Linked DNA regions of Homo sapiens. The protein of the gene in region 2 interacts with the protein of the main gene of each other region in a biochemical or structural test. Each region holds a gene or a part of one and is shown on either strand. Other genes may lie near its edges.

The links.
Region 1: the proteins of DCAF11 (region 2) and SLBP form a complex in vitro, tested with the Homo sapiens proteins (2 studies listed by BioGRID, with this or other methods).
Region 3: the proteins of DCAF11 (region 2) and CUL4B form a complex in vitro, tested with the Homo sapiens proteins (one study listed by BioGRID).

The regions. Positions count from the first base shown.
Region 1 is NC_000004.12:1,709,299-1,716,598, forward strand, and holds the start of SLBP (histone RNA hairpin-binding protein), read right to left. Parts: upstream 3,022-7,300; 5' UTR 2,891-3,021; coding exon 2,832-2,890; intron 2,693-2,831; coding exon 2,576-2,692; intron 1-2,575. UniProt on the Homo sapiens protein: RNA-binding protein involved in the histone pre-mRNA processing.
Region 2 is NC_000014.9:24,117,764-24,124,784, reverse strand, and holds part of DCAF11 (DDB1- and CUL4-associated factor 11), read right to left. Parts: intron 6,731-7,021; coding exon 6,630-6,730; intron 6,398-6,629; coding exon 6,251-6,397; intron 6,036-6,250; coding exon 5,981-6,035; intron 5,641-5,980; coding exon 5,572-5,640; intron 5,227-5,571; coding exon 5,169-5,226; intron 5,075-5,168; coding exon 4,889-5,074; intron 3,948-4,888; coding exon 3,794-3,947; intron 3,421-3,793; coding exon 3,268-3,420; intron 1,815-3,267; coding exon 1,708-1,814; intron 1,611-1,707; coding exon 1,476-1,610; 3' UTR 1-1,475. UniProt on the Homo sapiens protein: May function as a substrate receptor for CUL4-DDB1 E3 ubiquitin-protein ligase complex.
Region 3 is NC_000023.11:120,550,942-120,557,962, forward strand, and holds part of CUL4B (cullin-4B), read right to left. Parts: coding exon 6,983-7,021; intron 1-6,982.

The DNA.
Region 1 (7,300 bases), on a different chromosome or scaffold from region 2:
AAAAATATGGCACAGTAAGTTGTGAAAAGCCACAAGAGGCCTCTGAGGAGGAAAGCCTCCTAATTGCCATCATGTTCCCATGCTCAGAGCGAGACCTGCTCTCTTATCTGTAAACAGTGTTCAAGAAGAAAGACATTCCTTTAAAGCACTGGAATGTGGACAGATTTGCAGGCTCCTAGTTAAGCCCGCTCCCACTAGCTACTCTCCAATAAGTTAGATATGCTGTTTGAGCACAAAGGAGATTCATTGAAACCGCTATAATTACGCCTATGACGCCTGCCTCCCTTTCACTGTTTCACCCTGAACATCTACTTCTTTTTTTTTTTTTTTTGAGACGGAGTCTCGCTCTATTGCCCCAGCTGGAGTGTAGTGGGGCGATCTCGGCTCATCGCAAGCTCCGCCTCCCGGGTTCACACCATTCTCCTGCCTCAGCCTCCTGAGTAGCTGGGACTACAGGCGCCCGCTACCACGCCCGGCTAATTTTTTGTATTTTTAGTAGAGACGGGTTTTCACCGTGTTAGCCAGGATGGTCTCCATCTCCTGACCTCGTGATCCACCCGCCTTTTGCCAAGGCGCTGGGATTACAGGCATGAGCCACCGCGCCCGGCCTACTTCTTAAAGTGATTGTACTCAATAAATAGTGTGGAGACCGCAACTCCGGGCCTTTTGCAGCCTCCATTTTCCAACTGGTCCCCTGGCTCCCACCTTTATGAGCTCTTAACCTGTCTCTTCTCATTCCGGGTAAGTGTCGAGGCTGGTCCCCAACAATGGGGTTTCTCCATGTTAGTCAGGCTGGTGTCGAACTCCTGACCTCAGGTGATGGGCCCGCCTTGGCCTCCCAAAGTGCTGGGATTACAGGCAGGAGCCACTGCGCCCAGCCCCCTAGACCCAAGTCTCTAAATATCATCTCTATGTCCTGGTAACTCACTGTGCCTGAAGATGCCTCCCATGTAGACTCCTACACTCCGTTACCTTTCTTGACATCTCCTTTGCTTCTCTAAGCAGCTTCTCAAGCCTCACAACTTCCCATGCCTAGCTGCTCCAGCCCATCTTCTCTATCTTAGCAAATGGCCCCAATCAACAGCGTTCAGACCTAAAGGCTTGAGTCATTCTTGATGCCTCTTTCCTGTGTAAACCAAAAAGTGTCTGAGACAGGTCTCAATTGCTTTAGGAATTTAGCTAATGTTAAGGACATACCTAGAAGAACACGAAATTACAGAAAGAGTCTGTGGTCTGTGCCTTTCTCCAGAGATGACTGTCAGGGCTTCAATATTTAAAAGAGAAAAGTAGGTTGAAGGAGAAAGATCTACATGTTCCAAGAGAAAAGGAGCAGGTAGGGGAATAGTCAATTATGTATTCCTAGTGTGCTCAGTAAGTCGCCACTTAAAGTGAACAGAGTTCACCCGTGGAGATATTTAATCTTGTATCTGTAGGTATCTGCTTAGAAAAAAAAAAAGAAACACAAAGGTGGCCGGGCGCGGTGGCTCACACCTGTAATCCCAGCACTTTGGGTGGCCAAGGTGGGTGGATCACTTGAGGTCAGGAGTTCGACACCAGTCTGGTCAACATGGTGAAACCCTGTCTCTACTACAAATACAAAAAGTTAGCCGGGCGCGGTGGCATGCGCCTGTAATCCTAGCTGCTGGGGAGGCTGAGGCAGGAGAATCACTTGAACCCGGGAGGGGGAGGCTGCAGTGAGCCAAGATCGCGTCACCGCACTCCAGCCTGTGAGACAGAGTGAGACCCTGTCTTTAAAAAAAAAAAAAAAAAAAAAAAAGTAACGCAAAGGTAGTTTCTTGCATGATTCCGCGCTCAGCATAATTTTTTCCTTTTGGCACAGTGAAGTTGGGTCCGATTTTTTTTTTTCCTTTCACGCCTCCCATCCCCAACCCATCAGCAAGTCTCACAGGTCCTGCCTTCAGAAGCCTATCCCGAACCACGCATTTCCCTCCACCTTCACTGCTCCATCTCGGCCAAGTCACCACGCCTTTCAGGGAACTCAGGAGCAACAAGCCCCCAGTGCGGGACGAGCCACCCCAAAGCCCCTCGAGAAGTTTTCTCTAACCACAGCCCCGAAAAGCCCCGCCACTACGACCACTGGCACCCCTGCTTATTTCCTCCAGACCCTCCTCGGCCGTCCCACCCCATCAAGCCCTCCTTTCGCTCGCATCTCCACCCTCCCTGCACACTGCCTAACCCAGAAAATGGCCAAGCAGGTAAGCCCTGTCAACTCACTTCTCCTCGGGACTCGGGTGTCCCTGACTTCCACGTGTTCACGAGAAGCTCGTCAGAGACCCTGACCTCTCCCGGGAGCACAACACAGACTCGAACTGGCTAACTCGGGCTGACGCCGGTTCAGCTGACTCCCATCCTGGCAAGAGGCTTCCGGAGTGTTCCAGCGCCTCCCAGGCCTGCTGCGGCCGCCCCAGTCCACGGGCCGCGCGGAGACCAAGATAAAAGGACGCAGGGTGCCGACCTGACCGATCCCGGCACCGCGAGAGCGCGACGAGGTCCCTGGAGCCCGCGGCCTCGTCAAGGGCCCCACCGCGCCCCGACCCCCGGGTCCCGCGCCCACCTCTCGGGTCTGCGCTCGGCGCCGCGGTGCTCTGCCTCCTCGGCGTCTTCGGGCCTCCAGCGCCTGCCGTCGGCTCTGCGCTTCCGTCCCAGGCTCCATCGCGCGGGGGACGGCGGGCTGCGGGGAGGGACGCGGTCGGCTGGGCACGGGAGGTTCGGGACCGCCTTACAACCTCCGCCCTCCCACACCCCGGCCCCGCACAACCCCCGCCCCACGGGGCACGCGCTCCCTCGCCCGCCGCGCAGCCCGGCCTCACCTGGCGTCACCGTCGCAGCGGCTCTGATGCCTCGGCGGGCTTCGCGGGCGGCAGGCCATGGCAGCACGGGCCGGGCGCGCAGCGCAGGGCCGAGGCTGAGGCGGCGGCGGCGCGGGCAGAGAGCGCAGAGTAGAGCAGGGCAGGGCCTGAGGCAGAAACCCGCGTCCCCGCGCCGGCGCTCACGAGCTCTGCGCGCCCCGCCCCCAACCGCCTTTATGTGGGCGCCGGGCCCCGCCCCTCGGCCTCCCGCGCGCGCCGGGTCGGGCGAGACCATCGGGCCACGCCGCAGGGGTCCACTCAGCTGTGCGCGCCTCGCGAGCCGACTGGGGCTAGGGCGAGGCCTCGGGACCGCGGGCAGCCGCGAAGCCCGACTGCCCGGCCCTCGGCTCGGGAGCCAGATGGACGCCGTGGGCTGAGGAGAGGCCTGAGGAAAAGGTTGCCCCCACCCGCGGGATTGAGGCGGCCGGGCCGCCGCGGGCCTCTGCGACGCTGATAGGTCGCGCCTTGGCGGGCGGGGGCAGCTTTGGCGGGAGATTCGGCCGCGCGCGACGCGGCGCAGGTCGTGGGGGAAGGGTAAGCGGCACGTTTCTCGGCCTGGGTCGTGGCGCATCTCCCATTGGTTCCGGCCTGGGTGGAGCGCGGCTCTGCTTGGTTCCTGCCCAGGTGGGGGCGTGTCTCCTCCCTGGCGGGAACCCGGAACCCGGAACCCGGAAGGCGCGGCCTGTGGCGGGTACTGACTGCTTCCCACGGTCCCGTGGCCGCTGCAGGCCCCGTACGCGCCGTCTATTGTTTTGAGCCGCTTAAAGTTTTGGAGTAACCTTTTAGGTCGCAACAGTTGACAACTACACTGAGTCTTTCCGGTCCCACTGCCCTGGCCGTTGACCGCACACCGGCCACCGACTGAGCCGCTAGTTTCGGTTGCCGCTGCCTCCCTGCCCGTCCATGACGTCCTCCACTGTGTCGCCGGTGCATGACGCTCCCACCCTCTGCCTGGAGTTGACTGGGTTTGTATCCTGAAGAATCCCTGGCTCAGCAGGTAGGTTCCACCTGGAGGCGAGGTCCTGTAGATCCGCACCATCCCGTCCCGCTTCCCCGCCGTCACAGTTGCAGCTGACGGCCCCGCGGATCCAGCCAACTAGAACCCCAACGGGTGCACTACACCTGAGAACAGGTTCCCACAGCTTCCTGTTGGGGACAACGTGAGGGATGCAGGGGAGAGTGGAACCAGCCAAAAGAGTGGGCAGTGGGGTCAGGTCCAGGAGGCTGAGCCCCAGGGATGCTTGGGATCCCTCTAAGGCCTTACACCTCTGGGAGGGCCGGACTTTTGCACCTGCTGCCCTCAGGACTGTGCCTTGGTGCGTCCACCGCCCCCTTTTGAACTCAAAAAAGTCATCCTCAGACTAGGACGGACACATCCTGTCCCCTTCCTCCCCAGGCCCTGGGCATCCCATAACCCTCAACACTGTAAACTAAAAATAAAATCCTGGCAGGGCGCGGTGGCTCATGCCTGTAATTCCAACACTTTGGGAGGCCGAGGCGGGAGGATCATCTGAGGTTGGGAGTTCGAGACTAGCCTGACCAACATGGAGAAACCCTGTCTCTACTAAAAATACAAAATTAGCCTGGCATGGTGACGCATGCTTGTAATCCCAGCTACTCGGGTGGCTGAGGCAGGAGAATTGTTTGAACCCGGGAGGCAGTGGGCTAAGATTGCACCACTGTACTCCAACCTGGGCAACAAGAGCAGAACTCTGTCTCAAAAAAAATTAAAATCCTAAGCCCCCAACAACTGAATGGACCCCCTTGCGGTCAAGGGGACACCAGTGGCAATAAGATACCAAATTATGAATAGGACCTAAGGTCATGCCAGGCAAGGGTTAAGTCACACACCCTACATTTAAACTATATTCCTACTGCCACACTGCTTTTCTTTTCCTCTTAGTAGCTCAATAAGCACTGGCCTTGAGCTAAGCAATATTGGAACAGTGCAGTGGCCGAGATGATGGCTCATGCCTGTGATCCCAACACTTTGGGAGGCTGAAGCCTCCAAAAGGATTGCTTCAGGTCCAGAGTTTAAGACCAGCCTGGGTAACAGCGAGACCCTATCTTTACAAAAAACTTAAACAAAAAGGCTAGGCACTGTGGCTCACACCTGTAATCCCAGCATTTTGGGAGGCTGAGGTGGGAGGATCGCTTGAGCTCAGGAATTCGAGACCAGCCTGGGCAACATAGCAAGACTTCATCTTTACTAAAAATCAAAAAAATTAGCCGGCCATGGTGGTGTGTGCCTGTGATCCCAGCTACTCGGAAGCTGAAGTGGGAGGATTCCTTGAACCTGGGAGGTCAAGGCTACAGTGAGCCCAGATGGCGCCACTGCACTCCAGCCTGGGCGACAGAGTAAGACCCTGTCTCAAAACAATAAAAACCAATTTGCAGTTCCACCGGATGCTGACTGATCCCCCAGCCCCTATTCCACCAGCCATAACTACAGTTTCATTGGACAAGAGACTGATTTCAGTAACTTGGTCCAGATAAGAGACCACAGTGATGGACCACTTCTGGCCTGTGTAGAACCTCATTATAATACATTTTAAATGTTAAGTCTCCACCCCAAAGTGAATGTGGATTGTATGTTTGTTCAGGATGCATGCGTCAGGACTGCCTTCATGAATATTCATAGCTCCTCCTGTCACCTGCTGAATATGCATGTTTAGCCAACCCATTCAGCATAAACCTCCTGCCCCAACCCCTCCTCCTCCTCCTCTGAAGTGCCCATCTCTGGTCTTGGCCAGAGGCTGTGCTTTCCAGTCTGAGGGATGGCCATCTTGCAGGCTGTTAACTATTTTTATTTTGAGACAGTCTCACTCTGTCGCCCAGGCTGGAGTGTAGTGACGCGATCTCGGCTCACTGCAATCTCTGCTATCCAGGTTCAAGCGATTCTCGTCAGGCTGTAACTTTTTAGAAGAAATAAACTCTTCTCTAAGTTAACAGTACAGAGCCAAAGAGTCCCAAGTACCTGTGAGTCACAGGGCCTGGCACAGTCAGGGCCCATAACAGCCCCTCAGTAGATGCTCACTGGATCTCTGTTGTTGGTTAAAGCAGCGCCTGGCTGTGTATGCAAAAGAATGCCAGTGAAAGTACCAGGCTGGAAAGAATCTGAAGACACTCGTAGCGCAGGAAACTAGAGCCCACTGTCATATCTTTCAATAGGATTACGTGTACTGTTTCCCCAAGAACCATCCTGTGGGTCAAGAAGCAGAATGGGGAAAAGGCAGCAAGCACTCACTGTCCGGTTGCTGGGGTGCTCACCTGAGGGCCCAGTGCTGTGGGGAACCCCAGGCTGCTGTCTTGGCTGCCCTAGGTGCTCGGCTGGCAATTCCTGGGCCACCCTGACCCACAGTGAGGTCAGTAGAGACAGCCTGGTGTCCTCACAGGACGCAGCTGCAAACATAAGTGAACCGGAAAGGCTGCTCACTCCTTGGCTACCCATGTGTCCCCACATCAGTTCCTGCATCTGGAAGCAGCCGCAGTGGCGACCACACAGTGACTTCCCCCAGGACGTGTCTCTGCCCCTCCCACCCTGCTCCTGCAGAGGGCCCTGGGTCAGGGGTTCTCAAGACCCCAGAGTCCCTAACCAGAAATCAGAGGGGAAGGTTCCTACTGTACCCGCCTCCCAACCAATGGGTTTTTCCTCCTTATTCTGAACAAAGCACGCCACGCACGCAATTCCACCTCTAAGGTGGCTTCTCCAATACCCACAGGCCATTCTCCAACTATGACAAAAGTTTGGTTTTAATATCGGGCAACACAAAACACAGTACATCACTTCAGACTAAATTTTATTAAATATGGTGTCATTTGGCTACAATCGGTTTGTCTTTATAAAACTAAGTAACTTATTTTGTAGTAAAAACAACCCCAACCCACTGCCCCTCTTTGGCAGCCCTTGAAACTCAGTTCAAAGCTAGGCCTGGCTCCCGGCCATGGCCCCTGCTGCCTTCACCTGCTGAGCGCTCTAGGAAGCCTCCCAAATCCCAAGTGTCAGGCCCCCGGAGTCCATCACCTCTGCCTCAAACAGCCAAGCCCAGGGGCTTTGGGGCCGCAGGTATGAAGGCCCCTCCAGTAGCCACACCTGTGTCAGGGCTGTGCCCTGGGGCCTGGCCAACATCCCCCCTCCCCTTGAACCATCAGGAACTGGGCAAGACGCCCACCAGAGGCTTGACCACAGGGGGCGTGCATCCCCTTCTGAGCCTGGGAGACCCTAGGGGAGTGGGTAGCCTGGGCTGGACCCCTGGTGGGCTTGTGTTCTGGATGTCGCTATGGCACTTTGGTCCTCAACTCAAACCCCCACCCCTACCCAGGAGTCTGAGACCTCGGCCTTCCCTGGACTTGTTGGGCAGAAAAAGGCACCAAGGACAGGATGAGAAACCCGGAGGGGCAGCCCCACAAATGAGGGCGCTCTGACCTGT
Region 2 (7,021 bases):
CAGGTGTGAACCACCGTGCCCGGCCTACTTTTTGTATTTTTTGTAGAGATGGGGTTTTGCCATGTTGCCCAGGCTGGTCTCAAACTCCTGGGCTCAAGCGATCCATCAGCTTTGGCTTCCCAAAGTGCTAGGATTACAGGCATGAGCCACCACACCTAGCTTGTTTATTCTTTTAAAACTGCCTATTTTGCCATGAAATAGGTACCCTTGCTGTGAAAGCCTGTGAACACCCCTGGATGTGTGTACCTTCATTTAAAAACTGCCTTAGAGGGCATGAAATGTCATCAGGGAAGATCTATTCCGAGCTGGGTGTGAGCTCTAGCCCTCTCCCTGACCATCGGTTTGCTCTGGGGTATGAGGTTCTGAGTGTGAGGCGCCCACTGGGGCCTGGCGTCAGGGCCGACTTGCTTCTCTTAGGCTCTGCGTTCAGGGGCTACCTCTTCCAAAGACTACACAGCTGCAGGCCCAGCCTCAGAGCAGAGGTGATATGGGTATTACCAGGCTCTAATGGAAAGTGTGCTCTCTCGATATCTACTTGCAGGGAAGCTTCTGAAATTGGTAAGGGAGCACCTATTGCAAGGCTCAGTGAACAAATGGTTTTGGTATTTCCCTTTTTCATGGGGCACCAGAAGGGTATTTTCTCCTACACAGGATCGCATCTGAAGACTTTGCTGAACTGTGTTTTCCTGAAGTGAGGAGATGAAAGACCTCAGATAGGAAAAACAGAGAGTGAGAGAGAGAGACAGACACTGAGCCAGGTTCCCACACAGTTTATTGAGGGAGCCAAAGCCAGTGAGAGGACGAAGGAGTCCTACTTCAACCTACTTCCTTAAAGCTGTGTGCCTCCAGCATGAAGGGACCTTCCCAGAGGGCAGGGCCTGCCCTATAAGGGGCCACATGAAGCCTTGTGGAGACTCCTGCCTCTCATACCACAGCCTGTCCTACCCTAAAGACCCAGACATGACAGCAGACATAATCCCCACCCCAGGAGGGTGCTGAGGAAACACCCTTACCCATGCCCCTCCCCTAGAGACCTCAGGAAGAAAGGCCAGGACACCTGTCCTGTGATTGGCCAGTTGAATCCTCAACGTGAAGACCTGGCAGGCCTGGCTGACAGGTCTGTTCAGATGTGGCCTCAGGCATCTACTCTAGGATCCAACCCCTAACATTCAAACATGATTAAAAACACCCAGGACACTTCTCTTGCTGGCAGAGGCCACACCCCAGATAATGGCAGTCCTGCCAAACTCTGGCCAGAGATAGGGACCCAAGCTGACTGGGTGTGAGCACGTAAGGAGACCACTCTGCCCCATGGGGAGAATCTTCCAGGGCTCAGCTGAGGCTCAGAGCCCAGGCTTATGTTATTCCCCATCAAATGCCAGTGATTCCTCCAAACATTCCCCACAAGGGAGAAAGGGAGGAGGAGGCAGAGAGCTTATCAAGAGGTTCACCCTATATGGGGCTGGAGGTTGGATCTACTGGGGTGAGGAAAAGGGTGTAGAGGATTGGGGCACTGGGGCAGGGGCGCTGGCACATTCCTCAGATTCTGGCATGTCATCCTGGAAGTACTCAGCCTGGCGGTACTGCCACAGACGCAGGTTCCCGTCCCACTGCAGGGCAGAGGGTGGCAAGCAGTCAGGATGTGCTGCCCCCACCCAAGTCCAAGCCCCAGACATGTGCCAGCACCCTCAACCCTTGCAACCTCACCGAACTGCTGACAATCTTCTCTTCAAAGGGGTGCCAACTGACGTCACGCACACAGGCCTTGTGGTTGGTCAGCTTCTTCACAATGTGGCCACTTAGAAGGTCGTACACTGTCCAGGACAGGCAAGAGTGGAGAGGGACCACCACAAGACATCTAAACTATCCCTCACCTCCCCATGAGTAGCACCACTGACCTGCCTCTCAGGCAACTTCCCATGTTCCCATGGGAGCAAAGCCCACACCAGAAGACTGTGTTATTTCTGCTTCTATCCCTGTTCCTTTCCATACCTTGGGTTGAGGGTATGGTTTAGTGGTGTGGGTATGTCTGGCCCTTAGCTAAATTTCATAGGGGCTACAGTTAAGGAAATGCACTGGCTTTGAAGATTTTAGTAAGATATGGAAGGCACCACAAAAGTGAACAATGAGCTGTCTGGGGGTGTGTGCACCTGCTGCACCTTATCTGGACAGGGTGCATCTTTCTTTTGTCATGGGACTGTGAGTGTCTCTCTAGGGACAGCACTGCCTTAGGCTCCTTGTATCTGCAGCTGTGCTTCTGGTTTTTTTTTTCTTTTTCTTTTTTTTTTTTTTTTGAGATGGAGTCTCGCTCTTGTTGCCCAGGCTAGAGTGCCGTGGCGCGATCTTGGCTCACTGCAACCTCTGCCTCCCGGGTTCAAGCGATTCTCCTGCCTCAGCCTCCTGGGCTCAAGCGATTCTCCTGCCTCAGCCTCCCAAGTAGCTTGTGATTACCAGCGCCTGCCACCATGCCTGGCTAATTTTTGTGTTTTTAATAGAGATGGGGCTTCACCATGTTGGCCAGGCTGGTCTCAAACCCCTGACATCAGGTGATCTGCCCGCCTCGGCCTCCCACGGTGCTGGGATTACAGGCATGAGCCACCGTGCCCGACCTTTTTTTTTTTTTTTTTGAGACAGTTTCTCACTCTGTCACCCAGGCTGAAGTGCGGTGGCACAATCATGGCTCACTGCAGTCTCGGGCTCAGGTGATTCTCCCACCCTAGCCTCCCAAGTAGCTGGGACTACAGGCCTGTGCCACCATGTCCAGCCATTTTTTGTAGAGACAAGGTTTCTCCATGTTGCCCTGGCTGGTCTCAAACTCCTGGGCTCAAGTGATCTGCCCTCATTGGCCTCCCAAAGCCCTGGGGTTACAGGCATGAGCCACTGCAGCCAGCTTATTTCTTTCTATGCTTTTCTGCTTTAGCGACTGCATGTCCCTTAACTACTTGCTACCATCTTCCTGTGTCATTTTGTCTCTGTTCCCTCCTACCTTTCATCTGCAACCTCTTTCTTGACTGGCTGAAAAACAGAACCAACTATATTTTTGGCAATCTATTATATTTACTGTCTAGAATTCTATGTTCCTTTTCTTAATTTAAAACACTGAAAAATAGAATGGTTTCTATTTCTCTGTTTAAGCCTCCAAGCTAAGTTTGATTTTACCTGTAGCTGTCACTGGGCTTTTTAAGGTGGTCACTAGTCGTTATAGGTGGAATGGCAAGGAGTCATTCCTGCCCTTCCTGAGGCCCCCTGTTCTGACACAATCCTTACCAACCACTTTGCCAGTGGAGCAGCCACTGTAGATGAACTGCTGGCCAGTGCTATGAATGGGGGAGAACCGGCAGCGGATGAGGGTGTGCAGCACTCCGTGGCCCCGGTAGGTCATCAAGGAGCTGTCCCCTGGGAGCTTCAGCTTCCGCCAGGCTGGGTAGGGATGCAGAGTAAACCCTAGGTTAGGAAATCTGCTTTGGGATTGTTTCGTACCACCAGTCCTGAGCAAGGTTCGATGCCCAGAGACAAATGCCTTTCCAATCTTCAAGTGGTGGCTCTTTCTCCACCTAATAGTCAGTGGACAGTCTCCAATATGGCCCTGCCGGTTAATCATTACACTCACATACTTTTATATTGGTTGATTCTGAGTGACCCCCACCCAGGCCCCAATCCTAGGAACCTCTGGCCATTCCATCCATGATTTAGCAAATAAAGAGTTAATGCCTGGCAAAGAGGGCTGAGGGGGAGGTCCTCCAGGGCTCCCAGGCTACAGACAAATCCACTGTGCCTGTACTTCCAGTCTCACCTTTTTTGGGCACTTGCTGCCACCGATAGTCCCAGTTTTGCTGTGTGGCAGCCTGGCGTGAAGCTTCCATGCCTTCCCGGCTGGAAAAGCGTCGGATATCCCAGAGTTTGATGGTCTGGTCTTTAGAGTTGGAGATCAGATACCGGGCATCACCCTATGAATCCAAAGGTGGATAGTGAAGCATCAGAGCTTGCAAATGTCGGCGCCTGTCAGTCTAGTTCCCGTTCTCTAGTTGAGCAGAAGAACTCTGGCCTCTGGCTTTACTTGCCTCTCTTCATCCAGGTGAACTCATTTCCAGCGTTCTGCCTCAGATCCTACCACCTGGCTAGGTTTTCCTTTCCTTGCCCAGGCTACTGGCCGGCTTTCCTATTCTAGCCTTAATCAGATTGTCTTCCATTTTTCTTTTTTTAATTTTTAATTAACTAATTTTTTTTTGAGATGGAGTCTTGCTCTGTCACCCAGGCTGGAGTGTAGTGGGGTGATCTCGGCTCACTGCAAGCTCCGCCTCCCGGGTTCACGCCATTCTCCTGCCTCAGCCTCTTGAGTAGATGGGACTACAGGCGACTGCCACCACACCCAGCTAATTTTTTTGTATGTTTAGTAGAGACGGGGTTTCACCATGTTAGCCAGGATGGTCTCGATCTCCTGACCTCGTGATCTGCCCGCCTCGGCCTCCCAAAGTGCTGGGATTACAGGCATGAGCCACGGCATCTGGCCTTAGTTTTTTTTTTTTGTTTTTTTTTTTAAATAAATAGAGATGAGGTCTCGCTAGGTTTCACAGGCTGGTCTGGAACGCCTGAGCTCAAGTGATCCTCCCACCTCAGCCTCCCAAAGTGCTAGGATTACAGGTGTGAGCCGCTGTACCTGACCGGTCTTCCATTTTTCTTGTACGGAAAGCCCTGCCCTGCTCCTTGAGGACTGGTGAGTACAGATGGAATTCATGTTCCCTGGCTTGAGCCCCTTCCCTAAACTCCAACTCTTACAAACCTTGGTTAATAAGGAGCTTGTCAAATTCCCACACCAGTCCGCTTTCATGCCCTCCTGGGCAACTAGAACCTTAGCGGCCTGGCTGTACAGTCCTGACTTCTGGCCCACCTTGCTGTCAATGAAGGTGATGCCATCCTGGTGTCCAGCCAGTGCACCCACAGGCTTGGGGTCATCCTCCCGCATGGTGCGTCGATCCCACACTTTGCAGATGGCATCATCTCCCCCAGAGAACAGGATTTGGGAGCTTATATCAGCAAAGGCCACTGCATTCACATCATCCTCATGGGACTCAATCTAGGCGAAAAGGAGGCCAGGATATAAGACCTCTTTCTAGGTCTTATAAAAAGCCAAAAACCAGGAGGCAGAGGCTCTATCTCAGGAGCCATACCTGAAGGGTGCGCCGGTTCTGTTCTCGGTCAAAGACATACAGGCAGCCATCATTGGCCCTGAAAGGGAAGGGATAAAGGAGGGTCCTGGAGCCATGATCGAGAGGACCAACGTGGTATATGCTCTAGAGAGTTCCACTGAGAAATCCTGCTCTGGGTCAAGCCCTTTGCTCTTTTTATACAGGAAGTGGGGGAAGAGTTAGCTGTGTTTCAAGGAGGCTTGACACCTCCAATCTCGTGCTGGGGAAATGGAGAGCAAGGGGTGAAGCAACTTGTAAATCCTGACCTTGGGAGAAGGTCTGGTTGTTCTCTGCAGCTGCCAGTGCCATCTGTGTAACAGCAGAACTCATCTCTGGCAGAACCCCCATCTTGTTATTGAGGGAAACATACCCCACAAGCACTTACCCTCCTAGTACTTCTCGTCCATCTGAGGAGACAGCAATGGAGAAGACAGCAAAGCGACGCTCATCTGGCCTAAAAGCAAGAAGGAGCTGGGTTAAGTGGACTTCCTTCAGCTTTTGTTAATCTACATAAAATCTGACAACGGTTGTAAGGCACATCCCCAGGGGAAAAAAGAAGTCTGGCTAACATGCACCATAATGCAGATGCTCAGTGAGAACCCAGAAATCATCCTGCAACCATCTATTTTACCCAGTCCTCTGGCTGACAAGATGGTGCTTCCCTCCCAGGAATGCACACAGACCCACCAGTATACTTTTTCCCCTAAACAGAACTTCCAACTCAAGAGGTTTGCTCCCAAAGAGCTTCCCTTGAGAAGTTTCTGATGAGTCTGACCAGAAAGGGAAGCCAGTACCTGAGATCCAGGGCAGTGTGTGTATCTCCCTCACCATAGATATTGCAGATATGAACTAAGAGAAGCAAGAAAAACAAGAATCTTTCAGGGATGGGGGAAGAAGAGTGGAAGTGAAGCTAGGGAAGAGATCAAACAGGGGACAAGGGTACTGGAGCACTTTGGGAGTGATTTTCCCAGGACAAAGTGAGGGATCCTGGCTCAGAGGGGACAGGCACATGGAAACCTCAGGTCCCAGGCTGGAGAGTCAGTGGAAGCCTGGTGCATACTCACTGTAATCAGACCAGCTAGAGTAGAGGAAGTGGTTCCCATCAGGGGTGAAGGCCACATCCAAGACGCTCCAGCCTACGTCGCGGGCCTTGATGCTCTTGAATTTACGGAAACGGCCATATCGGCAGTCATAGAGTCGGATTGTCTGGTCTGTGTAAGTAAAGATCAGGCAGAATTATGGGACAGTTTCCTTGTAACTTTTCTAGATTAGACATCTCCCACTCAGTGTACCTGTGGAGTCTTCCCTTTATCATGGGAAACATGGTCTGGCTAAGCATCCTTAAGCCAGGTCTGAGCTCCCCGTCTGTGGCTTTCTAGCCTCAGTCAGGGGGAATGTCCCATGTTCCAGGAAAAGATAGTTTATAGGACCAGGGTCTGGTACCTTGGCAAGCAGACATGAATATTTGACCATCTTTGCTGTAGATGCCACAGAAAGCCTTCTGAGAGTAGCTATCAGTGAAGCCCAGATCATTGGGCAAGAAGCTAGGGAAGGAGAGAGAAAGTGAGGGTGAGGGGTGCTCAGGATAAGGAGTGTCCCAATCAGCAGAATCCTAACAGAGCTGGAATATCAGAACAGTCATTCTTCCCTTTTGGCTGTGAGTGCAATCCCGTCTTTCAACCATTCCACCATCCTCTAAATTTCTACAATTTTCTACACTTTTCTACTTTGTTTACTCTCAAAGTTTCAACCCCATTTAACCTAACCTTTAATATCTCTGAGGCTCCTTTAACACCTACCCCTTCAAAGTTTAGGAGATAAGACCTATCTGGCCC
Region 3 (7,021 bases), on a different chromosome or scaffold from region 2:
CTGGAAAGATACCCAAAAAACTAATAATGTCTGTCACAAAGAGAACTAACTAGGGGACTGGAGGATGGGGTGGAAGTGAGACTTCTCACTACATGCTCTGCAATACTTTCGGGGCTTTGAACCAGAGGAATATATCAGGTATTCAAAAAACTTAAATACTTGCCTTCCCCAATAAAAGCCTTTCTAACTTCCCCACCACCATACTTTTTAGCATGGTGTTCAAGGCAAATCTTACCACTTTCATCTCATGTCTGATTATAACTTTTCTTTTTTCTTTTTTTTTTAGATGGAGTCTTGCTCTGTCGCCCAGATTGGGGTGCAATCTTGGCTCAGTGCAACCTCTGCCTCCAGGTTCCAGTGGTTCTCCTGTTTCAGCCTCTCAAGTAGCTGGGATTACAAGCATGCGCCGCCACACTCAGCTAGGTTTTTTTGCATTTTTAGTAGAGATGGGGTTTTACCATGTTGGCCAGGCTAGTCTCGAACTCCTGACTTCAAGTGAACTGTTCACCTCAGCCTCCCAAAGTGCTGGATTACATGCATGAGCCACCTTGGCCACCCGATTATAACCTTTCACACATCCTTTGATCCAAGTACTCTACTTTTCTCACCTTTAGGCAAGATTTGGAGTGGTGTCTGTAAAACAGTGGCTTCCAAAATGTTTTGACCCAAAGCCACAGTAGGAAATCTAATGTCACAATCCATCATACATAAATTTATGTAACTAAAATAAAATCTTCACGAACCTACACATCATTACTCTATGTGATGCATTCTGATATTTGCTATTTCATTTCTTTTTAAAAAATGCTGGTCACGAACTATTAATTTCATGAACCTATTAGAACATAAGTAACTTAGGGTAGGTACTTATGCTCTCTTACTAGTACTAAGTGCTTTCCATAACCCCAAGGTATCAGTCCAGTTTTGGACACAGTAAGCAGTCATGGATTGAACAAGGAATGACTGTTTACTAAGTACTCTTCATCCTATTACATGCTGGGATGGAAACAGGAATAAGAAGGTGTTTGAGATAAGCTCTATTTTACTCTAGATCTTTGAAAAGCACTTTTACAAATATATTCTTTTAAATATTATGTATTTATTATTTATGTATTTTTACATATTATGCATTGTTTTATTTAAATATTATGTATTATTTATGTATTTTTACATATTATGCATTACGTATTTATTATTTACACTAATAAAACACTTTGGGAATCTCTGGAAGTAACCTCTTGCCTCACAAACAACTATTTGTAATAAACAGATTCTAGATAACTGCAACCTCTGCCTCCTGGGTTCAACCGATTCTCATGCCTTAGCCTTCCCAGTAGCTCGGATTACAGACACGTGCCACCACACCTGGCTGAATTTTGTATTTTTGGTAGAGACTGGGTTTCACCATGTTGGCCAAGCTGGTCTTGAATGCCTGACCTCAGGTGATCCGCCCACCTTGGCCTCCCAAAGTGTTGGGATTTCAGGCGTCAGCCACCGCACCCAGCCTTACAAGTCTTTTTAATAAAACTATCTTTTTATTTAAGCTCCCACTAATTACCAGTAAATATGCTGCCTTAAATCCTTTGAAGGTACTTAGGTATAAAATACAGGCATTCTAGCAAGCTTCTAACCCTTATTCTTCCAAATCCCAGCCCTTCCCCTCCAAAATCCACAGGATACATAAAAAATGTGTCTTTCTTCACAAGGATGAGCTAAAAAAAAGTGTCTGAAAAAAAAACACAGTCAAAAAATATATATAAACGTGTAGCAAATGACATATGCAAATATTTACTGAACAACAGACAATAAAAAAGATACTGAATTTCCACCAGGGTGTTGAACTCTGGTCACTGGTCTAAGGAGTGGAGTCTTAGTTTTCGAGCTATGTTTACAGATAGTAAGTAAAGCACATAACAAAAAATTCAACAACTGATATAGCAATAAGATCTACATTATCTCTCTTTTTATGTCAAGTAAATATGGCTAAGATACTCTAAGTATTCAAAAACTAAGAATCTGTTTAAAGGAAACCAACTATACAATGAAACCTAAACTCCTTTTCTTTTTACTTCCAGTAAACAGGACTTAAATAAGACTGAAAATTATCAAGGACTAAGAATTTGTAAGTGCACATTTTAAAATTTTTTATTATTTAATAATCTATTGTATATTTCAAAATAACAAAGAGTAGAATTTTAGTTGTACATTTTAAAAAACAGCAACAATAGTACTGATTAACGATTCAGTAAAAAGAGAAATACATAATACATAATAGACTAAGCTTTAAGACATCAACAGGGTGACAAAAGTTACACAGACTCCAACAGCTAGTCATCAACAATGCTAAGAATCTAACTGCTTTCTTAATAATCACTGACTGCTTAAGCAACCAGATTTTACAATTGATAATAACCTATACTATTTGATTCTAGTCCTGTGGTCATCTACTCTATAAATGAATCGTTAATAGAAAGGTTCATCATTTAAGGTTTATTTCACAAAAAGGTAACTACAGTTCCCATTATTAATAATAAATAAAATTATTTTCATCAGAATTGAAGTATGGCCTAGGCTTGACTTTAAAAATAGCTAGAGATTTATAGGAAAGATAAATGTTACACGCTCCTGTACAAACTTCCAGCATCTCCAAAAAAGGTAGCTGATCTTAAACACTGTAGTAGGCCAGACATGGTGGTTCATGCCTGTAAGCCTGGCACTTTGGGAGGCCAAGGCGGGATGACTGCTTGAGGCCAGGAGTTCGAGAACAGCCTGGGCAACATAGCAAGACCCCCATATCTCTATTTAAACAAAACAAAACAAAACACTGCGGCTACTCATACAAAAGTTGAGAACATGAGCTCATAATAGGATTATGAAAATAATCCTATTTAAAATATTACTTATTAATAGTAAAAAAACTCACACCAAAACCAAAATTCCAACTGTATGATACCACATGTGAAAACAAGACACATTCTTTTTAAGCGTAGAGGGACACTGTTCCTAGAGAGTTCCTGTCTTTTTCTATTATTTTTTCAATTTCGCTAATGGTGTCTACTGAAGCACATTTGGAATGTAATCTATTTATCAGACAGCTGCTCTGGCCCAGTGTAGATTTAGAATTTAAAATCGTGTGGCTTCAGAGCTCTAAAATAAAATGTAATTTTAAAATAAAGATTTCTTTTCTAAAGACTCAAATATCTACTATCATTGATGACACATACCAATATATAGCAGGAACTGTGATAATTACTTTTTTGCAATATTTCATTTACGTCTAAAAAACCCTACCATATAGGTAGCCGTTAGTCTCACCATCTTGTAAATGAGGAAACCAAGACTTAGAGAAGTAACTCGCCCAAAGTTATATGATGAGTGACAGATTTGTAACCTAAGGCAGGCTGGACAGCTCAAAAGTCAGTGCATTTAATCAGTCTTATTTGCAGTCAATTAAAAACAAGCACGCAAACAAACAAAACAGTCAAATGAAAACATTAATCACTGCCTCACACCCACAGGATCTCAAGGTTGTCAAGGAAAGATAATTTTAAAACTCAGGTCCAATTCTAATTTAAAATTACTTTAAAAAGACAATGTTTGCTTACTGCAAGTGTACTTAGAACAGCATGTTCTTTTATAGAAATTAAAAACTTAGTAGGCAGTACATGCAACCCACACTAGGGACTTCCATACTTAAAGCTTTAAAGCAAAATGTTTTTTCATGCAGAAGTAAGTTCTAAGCAGATATATGCCAGTAAGTGTTTACCTCAGAGAAAGAGGGTGGGACAGGGGTTTGGAGAACTTTTGTATAACTACATATTTCCACATTATTTCAATTTTAGAAGAGTACTTTTTCTTATGTTTTTATTTCCCACTCAGGTAGATTGAGAGAGTACTTCTAATTACGTTTCAATGAGTCAAAATCAAACAAGCACCTGAAGTCCAGATTATATGAAATAGCTTTACCTCCTTTATCCTCCTGTTTGAACTTGAACATCTCAAAATAATCTTTCTGAGAACAATCCAAAGGAACATTTATAAAATTAAGGTCAAAAACAGTAAAAGAGCTAAAAACCAATGCTTTTGAATTCATTATAGCAAAAGCAGTAAGGTATTATGAAAAATGCAAACAGTGAAGTTATAAGACTTGTGACTAGGCTAAAGAAATGCAACTGAACAACAGCAGGTAAAACTTACGAAGTACAAGAAAACAAAAACAAGAGATGCAAGCTCTATGCTCTTGAAAGAAAAAGATTTAACAGAATCAATGTATCAGGAAAAGTATTTTCAAATCAAAAGCTCTGGAAAAATATTCAAGGTAAAGTAAATAGGGTTAATTAATAACCACAATAAACATTTGTTACAAATATGGAATATATAAAATATTATTGAAATTAAATATGCTGTATACCAGCATATCCAAATAAACACCATATACTATCCAAATAAACACCACTTATGCATGCACAGATAAAAATACTACTAAAATTATAAAGAGCTTTTTCCCTAAAGTAAAACAATTTAATTGTTTCAAACACTGCACTACAGTGGTATTCAAAGTACCAGGGTATATTAGTGAGGTGGTACAGGAGTAAAAGTGCAATGAACTAGAAATCCAGCATCTCAGTTTGAGTTGCCCCTGCTCTGCCAATATGTGACTCTGGGCAGGTTATTCAACTTCTCTGAGACTCAGTCTCCTCATCAATAAAGTGGGGATAGGCCAGGCGCGGTGGCTCACACCTGTAATCCCAGCACCTTGGGAGGTGGAGGCGGGTGGATCACTTGAGGTCAGGAGTTCGAGATCAGCCCGGCCAACATGGTGAAACCCTGTCTCTACTAAAAATACAAAAACTAGCAGGGCGTGGTGGCAGGCGCCTGTAATTCCACCTACTTGGGAAGCTGAGGCAAGAGGATCACTTGAGCCCGGGAGGTGGAGGTTGCAGTGAGCCGAGATCACGCCACTGCACTCCAGCCTGAGTGACATAGCAAGACTCCATCTCAAAAAAAAAAAAAAAAAAAAGTGGGGATAGTAACTACTACCCTACGTACCCCAGAAAGGGTTTCCATAATGCTTATATGAGATAATACGAGATGAATCCCCTTTGCAGGCTGTCATGGACACCACAAAGAAAAAATATTGGACCACATGCTCTCTTAAGGCCTTTCCAAGTCAGTTTCATATTTTGGCTTTTATTGTTGTACATTTTAAGAGACGCATATATAATACGCCAAAAGAGCCATATGAAATGGGCTTATTCTTAAGTAATAGCTTAGTACTACAACTACTAGCCGACATTTGCATAGCATTATAATGCTTATAATGTTACACGGCATTATTACTATGTGTTGTGCACTGATTTGAGTATTTTGCGTGTACTAATTTTCACAGCAACAGAAACTGGTGATCTCAATTGTCATACTACAAGTGAAGAAGCTATAATGTGGCTTGTAAAAAAGTTTGACTCGTGATACCATCTTATATTTGTAAGATTATAGTGCCTGGAGGCGTTTTCCACAAATATCTTATTTGATTCTTATCAGCAACCTTGTGAGACAGGTAGGGCAAACTATTATTTCCTCTACTTTAGAGAGGAGGAAATTTAAATTGAGAGTGACGGCTGGGTTTGGTAGCTCATGCCTGTAATCTCAGCACCTTGGGAGGTTGAGGTGACAAGACTGCTGTAGCCCTGGAGTTCAAGACCAGCCTGGGCAACATAGCAAGACCCCTATCTCTTAAAAAAACAGGAAAAAAAACTGAGAGGGCTTTAGTACCTGGCCCAAGATTATGAGGGTAACAGCAGTCAAAACTAGATCCCAAACCCATCTTCTGACTCCTAATCCAGGTTTACCCATCACCATACTAGCTCTGCAACTAAAATATACAAATACTGATAAATAAAACCAACATAATTTCTTACAAGGTACTCATCAATACAAAAATTCAAGCTATTGTACTCTGAAGTATATATATATTTTTTTTTTTTTTTGAGATGGAGTTTCACTCTTGTTGCCCAGGCTGGAGTGCAATGGTGCAATCTCGGCTCACCGCAACCTCTACCTCCTGGGTTCAAGCGATTCTCCTGCCTCAGCCTCCTGAGTAGCTGGGATTACAGGCATGCACCACATTGCCTGGCTAATTTTGTATTTTTAGTAGAGACGGGGTTTCTCCATGTTGGTCAGGCTGGTCTCGAACTCCTGACCTCAGGTGATCTGCCAGCCTTGGCCTCCCAAAGTGCTGGGATTACAGGTGTGAGCCACCGTGCCCGGCCTGAAGTATCTTTTAACACCAAATCCCTGACACTCTAATGAAAGTAACTTCTTGAATTGGTTGTGTGTCAAATACACAGTAGGGAAAAATTTCTTGGTAGCAAGGGATTGCCCTTAGGAACTGCCCTTAAAATTATATTTAAGTGTAAGGACCCATTTGCTAAGTAAAGAATCTGAACCTCAGACTAAGCTGCTGGACTACAAACTGCTACTCATTTCTGGGCTAAGGTGCGTCTTGTAGCCCAGGTATTAGAAAAATGTAAAGAGCAAGAAAAAGAAATGGCAAAGTCTACTATTAAGAAGGAGGTAGAATAAAGGATATGAATAATATCTGCATGTCTTGAGGCCTTTCCTATGGGTAGGTAACACAACTAAGAAACAATTATCACAATAGAATGACATGTCACCAGAAATCATCTTTGGGATTCATGCTATAGGATTACATTATAGGTAGAACTTCTATTACACCAAGGTACACGTAACTGTAATTTCTTATCAGGAGGGTCAAATATAAGCACAACTTATACTGGTATGACTGTACCCATGGTTTATGTGAGAATACGTGGTCTAATTATAGAGTTCATCAATTAATGGAGAAACTAAAATTAGAAGGGAACCAAAAGTCTACTTAAGAACCTATTTCAGAAAGCAAAATCCATATACATCCCACCTCAATTTATGTTAATCAAATCTGGTTATGCATATTAATACATACCTGGTAGAGTTCTTCTAAATTGTACTTAATTGAAGTACT